2 separate regions of the Homo sapiens genome follow, and region 1 is reported to be linked to region 2. The links are microRNA targets in miRTarBase. Many come from high-throughput screens and were not tested one by one. Region 2 holds a microRNA gene; the other region holds the end of a gene's coding sequence.
What was found. Region 2 holds the annotated microRNA hsa-miR-645 (UCUAGGCUGGUACUGCUGA, at 1,596-1,614, shown strand). A microRNA usually pairs through its seed, bases 2 to 8, with sites in the 3' UTR of a target mRNA and lowers its output. Matches are read on the target gene's strand: a 7mer-m8 pairs with bases 2 to 8, a 7mer-A1 pairs with bases 2 to 7 and ends in A, and an 8mer does both.

Region 1: the mRNA of ADAMTS18 is a reported target of hsa-miR-645. Seed matches in the 3' UTR shown: 7mer-A1 at 1,761-1,767.

What each region holds. Positions count from the first base shown.
Region 1 is chr16:77,280,657-77,284,656 of GRCh38, forward strand. It overlaps ADAMTS18 (ADAM metallopeptidase with thrombospondin type 1 motif 18), which reads right to left. Exons shown (of 23, transcript NM_199355.4): 23 at 1,472-3,415. The coding sequence ends at 3,300. Among named protein-coding and RNA genes, the nearest start is that of SYCE1L, 83 kb to the left of the region's middle.
Region 2 is chr20:50,584,251-50,588,502 of GRCh38, forward strand. It overlaps MIR645 (microRNA 645), which reads left to right and starts at 1,536; the gene lies at 1,536-1,629. PTPN1 (protein tyrosine phosphatase non-receptor type 1) reads left to right here. Exons shown (of 10, transcript NM_002827.4): 10 at 1-991. RIPOR3 (RIPOR family member 3) reads right to left here. Exons shown (of 22, transcript NM_001290268.2): 21 at 3,552-3,642; 22 at 1,858-3,082. The coding sequence ends at 2,982. RefSeq lists enhancers at 2,071-2,584, 2,585-3,097, 3,914-3,973 and a silencer at 3,882-4,176.

The DNA.
Region 1 (4,000 bases), not on the chromosome of region 2:
CCGTAATTTATCATTGTTAAATCACTTATTGTCAAACTCCATTCACATGCATCTCAGGGGGCAAAAAGTAGAGTTCTAAGGCCTGCATGCCCTTCTTTTTCTTTCTCTATCCCAGGGTAACGCAACACAGTCACGAGAACCCCAATGGATTTGGGTTTGAGTCCTGACCCCATCACTCAGTGACTGTGTACTAGGGCTAAATACGTAATGTCTCTGAATCCGAGTTGTCACCTGCCAACAAAGAACAATAGTATCTTCCTAAGTGGGCTATTGTTAGGATTAAATGAGATAACATATATAAATAGTTCAGTACAATACCTGATTCCCATTAAACACTAATATGTGGTTGCTTATTACCAAAAGGTATAAAGACAATTTTTTTTTCTGGGCGTGGTGGTGGGCACCTGTAATCCCAGCTACTTGGGAGGCTGAGGCAGGAAAATCGCTTGAACCTGGGAGGCGGAGGTTGCAGGGTGTTGAGATCCTATCATTGCACTCCAGCCTGGGCAACAAGAGTGAAACTCTGTCTCAAAAAAAGAACAAAATATCTTTTTTTCTGTCACGTATTTTATCTGCATCTATTCCATTTTCCATTCTTAATCATAATTTTTTGTTTGCTAAATAGCAATAAATTATATAAAAATTCTCTTAACTATAAAGATACGCATATGAACTTATGTAGACACACATGTAATCACAGATGCAGGGAAAAATACAGTATTTTCAGATCAATTGGACATAACTTTGCCCAGTTCTTATTCTCCACTGGTTTAATGATTCAAAATTTCAAAAAGCCAAGAACAATTACTTTTTATTTTTTTCATGTTTTCCTGCCCATCCTTCCCTTCCCCCTCTTTATTTTTACAAAAATATTTTACTAGAATGACTTTTAAATGTAAAAATACATTTATGGTAGTTTTATCTTAGATGATTTCCACAAATGTTCTCATGACAATTACAGGGGAACAAAATAGTGTGTCCTCAAGAGGGTAAATGTGTCATCTGTTTCATCCTAGCATTTCATACTTTGATTTCTTCAAAGGCAAACAAGAAAAATCACTAGTTGTTGAATAGCTTATCTATCTTTCCTCTTCTCAATGAAGTTACTCTGTAGATTTGTTGTTGTTGAGACAGAGTCTCTGTCTGTCACCCAGCGGGGAGTGGTGTGGCCCAATCTCCTCTCACTGCAGCCTCAGCCTCCCAAGTAGCTAGGACTACAGCTGTGTGCCACCACAGCTGGCTACTTTTTTTGTATTTTCAATAGAGACAGGGTTTTGCCATGTTGGCCAGGCTGGTTTCGAACTCCTGGACTCAGGTGATCCGTCTGCCTTGGCCTCCCGAAGTGCTGGGATTACCGAGGTGAACCGCTGCACCCAACCATTCTCTAAGAGTCCTGAGTGACATTTATACAGTTAAATTACCTTTGAAATTATGGACTTTTCACTAACTTATTCAAGAACTTAACAAGCTGTCAAAGATAAAGAAATGGAATACTTTATTATAAAACTTATAAAATAATTAAATATTACACATATATTTTGACTTTTCTCTATAATCCATGGTTTTATTCAACATTTTATCTCAAAATATTACTTAGAGAAGCAAGTGAGAACACATAATAGGCTATTAATTAATAAATTAATTTTCCATAAAATAATAAAATGATAATTATATAAAGAAATAACTTGCTGTTTTTCAGAAGGCAACGGGGTTGTAGTAGAGAAAATTTTTTTTTTTCCTGTTGATAAAATGGCCACTTCTCTAGGCCAAGCCAAGCAGATTGAGAGAAGTTCCTAAGCATTATTTCTCTGGGATTCAAGAACTCATGACTTTAATTAGAATGGGAACGAAGTATGCTGCTAAATTTAACAAACCACTGTCTAGTTGATTATGCTGAGCTGGCTAATCCAGCTTGAATTGAGACTTTTTAAAGAAGTAAAATTGGGTTACATTCATCAAAGAAGTTGAGGAATAAAGTAGAATTTATGTAAATATGCCCTTTATAACCACTTCTCAAAAAATTACAGGAGGACACAGTATTATAATTACTTTGGTTTTGGCAAAATAGTGTGATGTTTTTTCAATTGAGAACAATTTTAAACTCATTAATGCCTACCAACAGCTGGCTTCTGATGACTGAAAATACTCTTATTCAGTGAGGGTCTTGTCATATTATGATTTATTAATATTAACATAGCAAGAAGACAGATGGATTTTTTTATTACCACTGTTTACTCCTTTCTTTCTCTCTTTTTTTTTTTTTTTTTTTTGCTGTTAGCTCAATCCTAGGGCAAATTTAAACGTATCAGTTGGTAGGAAAAAGCCACAAGTGGCCTTTAATTTTCCAAGCAGCTCTGGTAGTATGTACAGAGCATTATAAATGATGGTCCTTTCTCCCTCAAAACACTGCTGTGTTTTGTCATTTAGCTCCTCCTAGATATTTTTTAAATACCAGAAATGGGTATGTAGCATTCCCAAAGAGCGGGCTGTAGCTTTTCATGGACTGATTCAGCAAGCACCAAAAGTTACGAGGTTGATAACATGTGAAGGGCATCCATATTTATCTTTTCTATGAGTTGTTTCCTTGCATGAATTTCAATTACATGGAGATCTTAAACAGTCCATGTTGCCCTATTTTCATAATATTCCTTGGAATACTTTTCAAGTTGTCAATTTTAGTCTCAGAGACTCTCTATAAGCAGAATATAGTTTACACAAAATAATAAAGACACACGCACACCAAATAAACATAACATGAAGCTTGCCAGTCCAGCAGCAAGCACAATTGCGAGCACCATTTGGCTTCTCATAGAACTCCTGGCTTGGGTGTTCACAGGGTTAGTCGAACTGTGAACTCCACGCAACAGTTAGGCAAGGTATTCCATCCAGATTTGAAAGTTCTGAGTCTCAGTCTTTGACCTGAAGTCATAAAGGACCTTTTTAAAACAGATGTCTTTGCCCTTGAACCCTTTGAAGTTCAAAAGGGGGTCTCTCCCCAAATCGACGTATCTCAGTGTGATTCACCACTTCTTGCATATAACAGTGCAAATCAAAGATTTTTTTTAAAGTCAGATTTGTCATCGCTTCCCATTTTCAAGTGCTTCAGAGTACCACGTGCTTCAGGGAATTGAGCTAGAAGCCTACTGGCAACCTGTCTGTTCCTCAGAGCAGGCTCCTTCATCACAGCGGCAGCTCACAGATGGTTCTCGGTGCTCAGCTCCTGGTCTCAAAGGCAGCTGGTCTCTCTAGAGGTTGAAAGGTAAGCCCCTGGCCCTAAGGTGCTGGGGAGGACACCAAGATCAGATCTTCCTTGTGCATGACTTGCAGCATTGTTTTCCGTAAAACTTGTGGTTGCAGACACCATGCTGAGGAACTAGGTGACACCAGTTGAAGAAATCTACGCAGGATGGATCCTCTAAAATAAGAAAATATATTTAGCATGTTGGCTAGGGTGTCTATCCTTTTTCTTTTTTTTTTTTTTTGAGATGGAGTCTCACTCTGTTACCTAGGCTGGAGTGCAGTGGTGTGGTGTGATCTCCGCTCACTGCAATCTCTGCTGCCCAGGTTCAAACGATTCTCCTGCCTAAGCTTCCCAAGTAGCAGGGACTATAGGCAAGTGCCACCAAGCCCAGCTAATTTTTGTATTTTTAGTAGAGACGGGGTTTTCCACCATGCTGGCCAGGCTGGTCTCAAATTCCTGAGCTCAAGTGATCTGCCTGCTTCGGCCTCCCAAAGTACTGGGATTACAGGTGTGATCCACCGGGCCCAGCCTTTGGTGATTTGCATATTATGATTTATTAATATTAACATAGCACCTTTTTCTTAAGGTGAGGGCCTACAGAACAAAGGTCTTGGGCCCACCTCCCTTGTGCCTCTATGTGGTTTTTCCCATTAAACATTGGGACTTTGGTAGGGGGGTGAGGTAGGGGCAGGATTTAGATGCCAAGAAAAGACTCTGACCATTAGCAAAATTAAATGATTTGTTTTTAAAAAATGTCAC
Region 2 (4,252 bases):
CCTGCAGAGCTATGGTGAGGTGTGGATAAGGCTTAGGTGCCAGGCTGTAAGCATTCTGAGCTGGGCTTGTTGTTTTTAAGTCCTGTATATGTATGTAGTAGTTTGGGTGTGTATATATAGTAGCATTTCAAAATGGACGTACTGGTTTAACCTCCTATCCTTGGAGAGCAGCTGGCTCTCCACCTTGTTACACATTATGTTAGAGAGGTAGCGAGCTGCTCTGCTATATGCCTTAAGCCAATATTTACTCATCAGGTCATTATTTTTTACAATGGCCATGGAATAAACCATTTTTACAAAAATAAAAACAAAAAAAGCAAGGTGTTTTGGTATAATACCTTTTCAGGTGTGTGTGGATACGTGGCTGCATGACCGGGTGGGTGGGGGGGAGTGTCTCAGGGTCTTCTGTGACCTCACAGAACTGTCAGACTGTACAGTTTTCCAACTTGCCATATTCATGATGGGTTTGCATTTTAGCTGCAACAATAAAATTTTTTTCTAAAGAACATGAATTTGGGGTGCTTCCCATTTTTTTCTTTGCTTAATAGAGCTAAACCAGGATGAGTAACTCCTGTTTCTTTCTATCCCTGCTGATGTGAAACAGATGTTGTCAATCAGCTGGGGTTAGAGTTTTCCACTTCTAAGAATTAACCTCAGCATCCCTGCATTGCCAGCACCCTCAGGCTGGAGCGCTTTCCTTGACTGTGAGCTTGTTGAACACCTTAGGCCTCAGCCCATTTCCTTCCCAAATTGACGCTTTGCCTGTGTAGGGCCCTCAGATAACTTAACAAACTTACCAGTGTTGTTTGAAGAACAGTGTTTTGAGTTGTAATCTCAAAACCATATCCCTTACCCAATTACCTGTAAGACACAATGGTTACCACATCTCAGTACGTAAAGTCCACTTGATATAGAATTGACTTAGAAATAAGACAGATTAGTATAGTTTTTCATTTGTGTACAAAATTAAACAATGTAAATTCCCCCCAAAGTGATTTTTTTGACTTTTTGAAGTAATTTTGGACTTGCAAAATGTTGCCAAAATAGTACGAAGAGTTCCCCAGTACCCTCGAAGTTTCCTCGACTGTTTCAAAGCTGGCTGCAGGCCCAGGCTCATGAGACTGGGAAGAGGACAGGCTGTGGTCATGTGGACCCACAGGGGCCTGGGGCTGCAGAAGTCAGTGTGGCTTCCACCATTTCAGGTATAAAAAAGGGCATCTAAGCTTTCAAGAAGAGGGAGGATGCTCTAGGGCAGCGGTCCCCAACCTTTTCTGGCACCAGGAACCGGTTCCATGGAAGACAATTTTTTCACAGGCCTGGGGGTGGTGAGGGATGGTTTTGGGATAGAAACTTCCACCTCAGATCATCAGGCATCAGATTCTCATAAGGAGCTTGCAACCTGATCTCTTGCACACATTCAGTTCACAATAGGGTTCACGCTCCTAAGAGAACCTGATGCTGCAGCTGATCTAACAGGAGATGGAGCTCAGGTGGTCATGCTCAGTCGCTCGCCACTCACCTCCTGCCATGCAGTCCAGTTCCTAACAGGCCTCAGACCAGTACCGGTCTGTGGCCTGGGGGTTGAGGACCCCTGCTCTAGGCTGGTACTGCTGATGCTTAAAAAGAGAGGGTTTGCCAGAAATCAGATGGGACAAAAGGGCAAAGGCCGTGCCACAGAGTGCCCATATAGGGGAGAGCACGCCTGGAGCCTTCGAGAGCATGCAGAGAAGCCTGGAGACTGCATTTACCGGAGCTGCTGCCTGAGGCCACCCTCCAAGTGTCCCCACAGCGCACCACAAGACCACAGGAGTGACCTCCTCACTGGCAGGTATTTGGGGAAACAACTGCTGTCTACTCTTTTGGGTAAAAAGTGAAACACCAATAGTTTAATTGAAATTTCAGAAAATTGAACATATGAACAAGGCAAATAAATACTAAGTAAGTTAAAAACACAAAATATGTCCAGGAAGTATCGATGAGAATGTTCAAGTTAAAGTTCTCCAATGCCATTGCTACAGCAACCTCAAACCCTAGGTTCTCTCTGCACTATTAACACAGACATCTCAGGACATGGTTTGCTTTTTTTTAAGACTTAAATAGGAAACTAATTTTTCTTTCTTTAAAGCAATTGCGTTCTTCAGTGAACTCTTTCTTTAGGCCAGTTGATGGCTTCTTAGCAGTTTATTGACGAGATCCTAGGGTAGCTTCCGAAGCTGGGTTGATTGATTGCATTTGGGTGCGGATGGCCAAAGTGAGTGGCCCTACTGCCTGTGCTGCTCAGGGCTCCTGGGCTGATGTGGTGGCTTCTTCCCTTTGTGCTGCTGAACATAGGGAAAGTGAGGTTCACAGTCCACCATCCACCAGCCGCCGTCTGTGAGCTCCACCAGCACTCGCAGCAAGTCAGTCGGGCTGAGAGTGTGGTTGTAGAAACCCTGGCTTTGTGCCTTCCCACCTTCCCCAGCTCACCAAGGTGACACCTGGCTGCTGCTGAAATGGCCTGAGCAGTCTTGCATTAGCAGGGCCAGCCACCTGCCAGCCTGCTGCATCCCCAGTGCCTCTTGACGCAGAAGTGCCGAGCAGCTGACCGGCAGCGAGGCCTGGAGTTCTACACACTTGCCTTGGAGCCTTTTATTTAGGGCCTCAACTTGCCTGGCCTTGGCCCTTTTGTAGGTGGCCACCTAGTTTGGCTCAGCTCTGCATCTCGGGGAAGGTCACACAGACCCTCAGCCAGAAGTTGAGCGCTCTGTTGAGGCCGTGCAGCCCCTGGAATGCTGTACCTTTGCCTTGCTTTTTTCTGCCTCTGTACAAAAGACCAGCCCATGCCCTGGGGCTGGGTCAATGGCCGGAGTCTCAGGTAGAGCTCTGGGCAGCTCACACTCCTGGAGGAGTGCACAGCACCATTACCCAGAGTGCAGGCTATGTCCAGGCTGGGCAGCAGCAAAAAAAACGATGTGAGATTTGTGCTCATCAGCCAGGATTTTTTAAAATATTGTGATTTCAACATCTGCCTCCTGGCAAAAGACTTCTCTTTGTTCTGAGCAGAGCTTGTCCATCTTCTCAAAAGCTAACCGTCCTTTTTCACCTGAAATAGCAAAGGGACCTGTCAGCGGGTTGGATCCTGCCTTGGCACTTCCAACTCTCCTGGGCCAGGGTGGCCCTAGTGCTTAGTGACTGTGGGTCTCAGTGGTCTCTGCAAAGCGGCAGGGGAGGGAGTATGTGCGGGAGCCCCCACCTGGTGACTCACATGGCCTGGGGGCCTTGTCTTTACCTCTAGGATGTTCCGCTGAATGGGAACCCTGCCTTGCCTCTGGCTTCTATCCCAAAGGTCTAAGAAGACAGCGAACACTCCCTGCCACCCCAGCCATGGAGGAGGCCTGCCTTGGCAGGATGCTACAAAGGGTGGAGGTCGGCTCTGTGCCAGGGCTGCTAACGGTGCCCATCCCAGGTGCCCCAGAGTTGTTCTGCCTGCTGGGAGAGCTGGGTGTGGCCTCTCGCAGATTCTAAGGGCCCCAGGCACCCCGCTGCGCTGCACAGTTTGTGCCACTTTTTACCGAACGACAGTGTGGTTTCCCGGGCTGCCGCCCGCACGGCCTCCAGGTCAGACTGGCACAGGCTGGCAGTCTGGTCGATGCTTTCAATGCCCTGTTCGAGATTAGGAGAAAAAGAACCCTTTAGGGGGCCTTCTCAACAGCAGGTAGAGTCCACTTAGTGGCCCTGCAGGGCCAGTCCTAGCATGGTCTCTGGGGCCTCAGCCCCTTCCTTTTCTCCAGGCTTCCAGGTTTTTTAGGTGGCCTCAGGTTCATGAGAGGCACCTCTGGACTCTGGAAGCGTCTCGCCTCTTCAGCCCTTACACCCGCTAGGGAGCCAGGCTGTTAGCAGAACTCGTCATCCTGGATGCCTGCTGAAAGGCTAGAATTGAAAAGGAGACCTGCTGCTTTCTGGACCTTCCTGCCTCCCTCACGCTCTCCTTGCCCTACTCTCCAGGACAGCCTGTGCCAGTACTTCGCCCAACTCAGGCACATGCCCCCTGGCTGCTCCTGCAGGCCAAGGACCGGCATGCGCTGCAGCGCCCTCTACTGGGCACCTGGCCCTCGCTGGTTTTCTGATCCTAACCAGCTTCTCCTCTTAGAATTTCCTGCTGATCCATCCCAGAATGAATGGGAGTTCAATCTGTACTGAATTATCTTTCATCTAGCAATTGTGCAATTCCAAATGCAGGTGAGGTTGAGGGAAAGCGGGCATCCCCTCACAT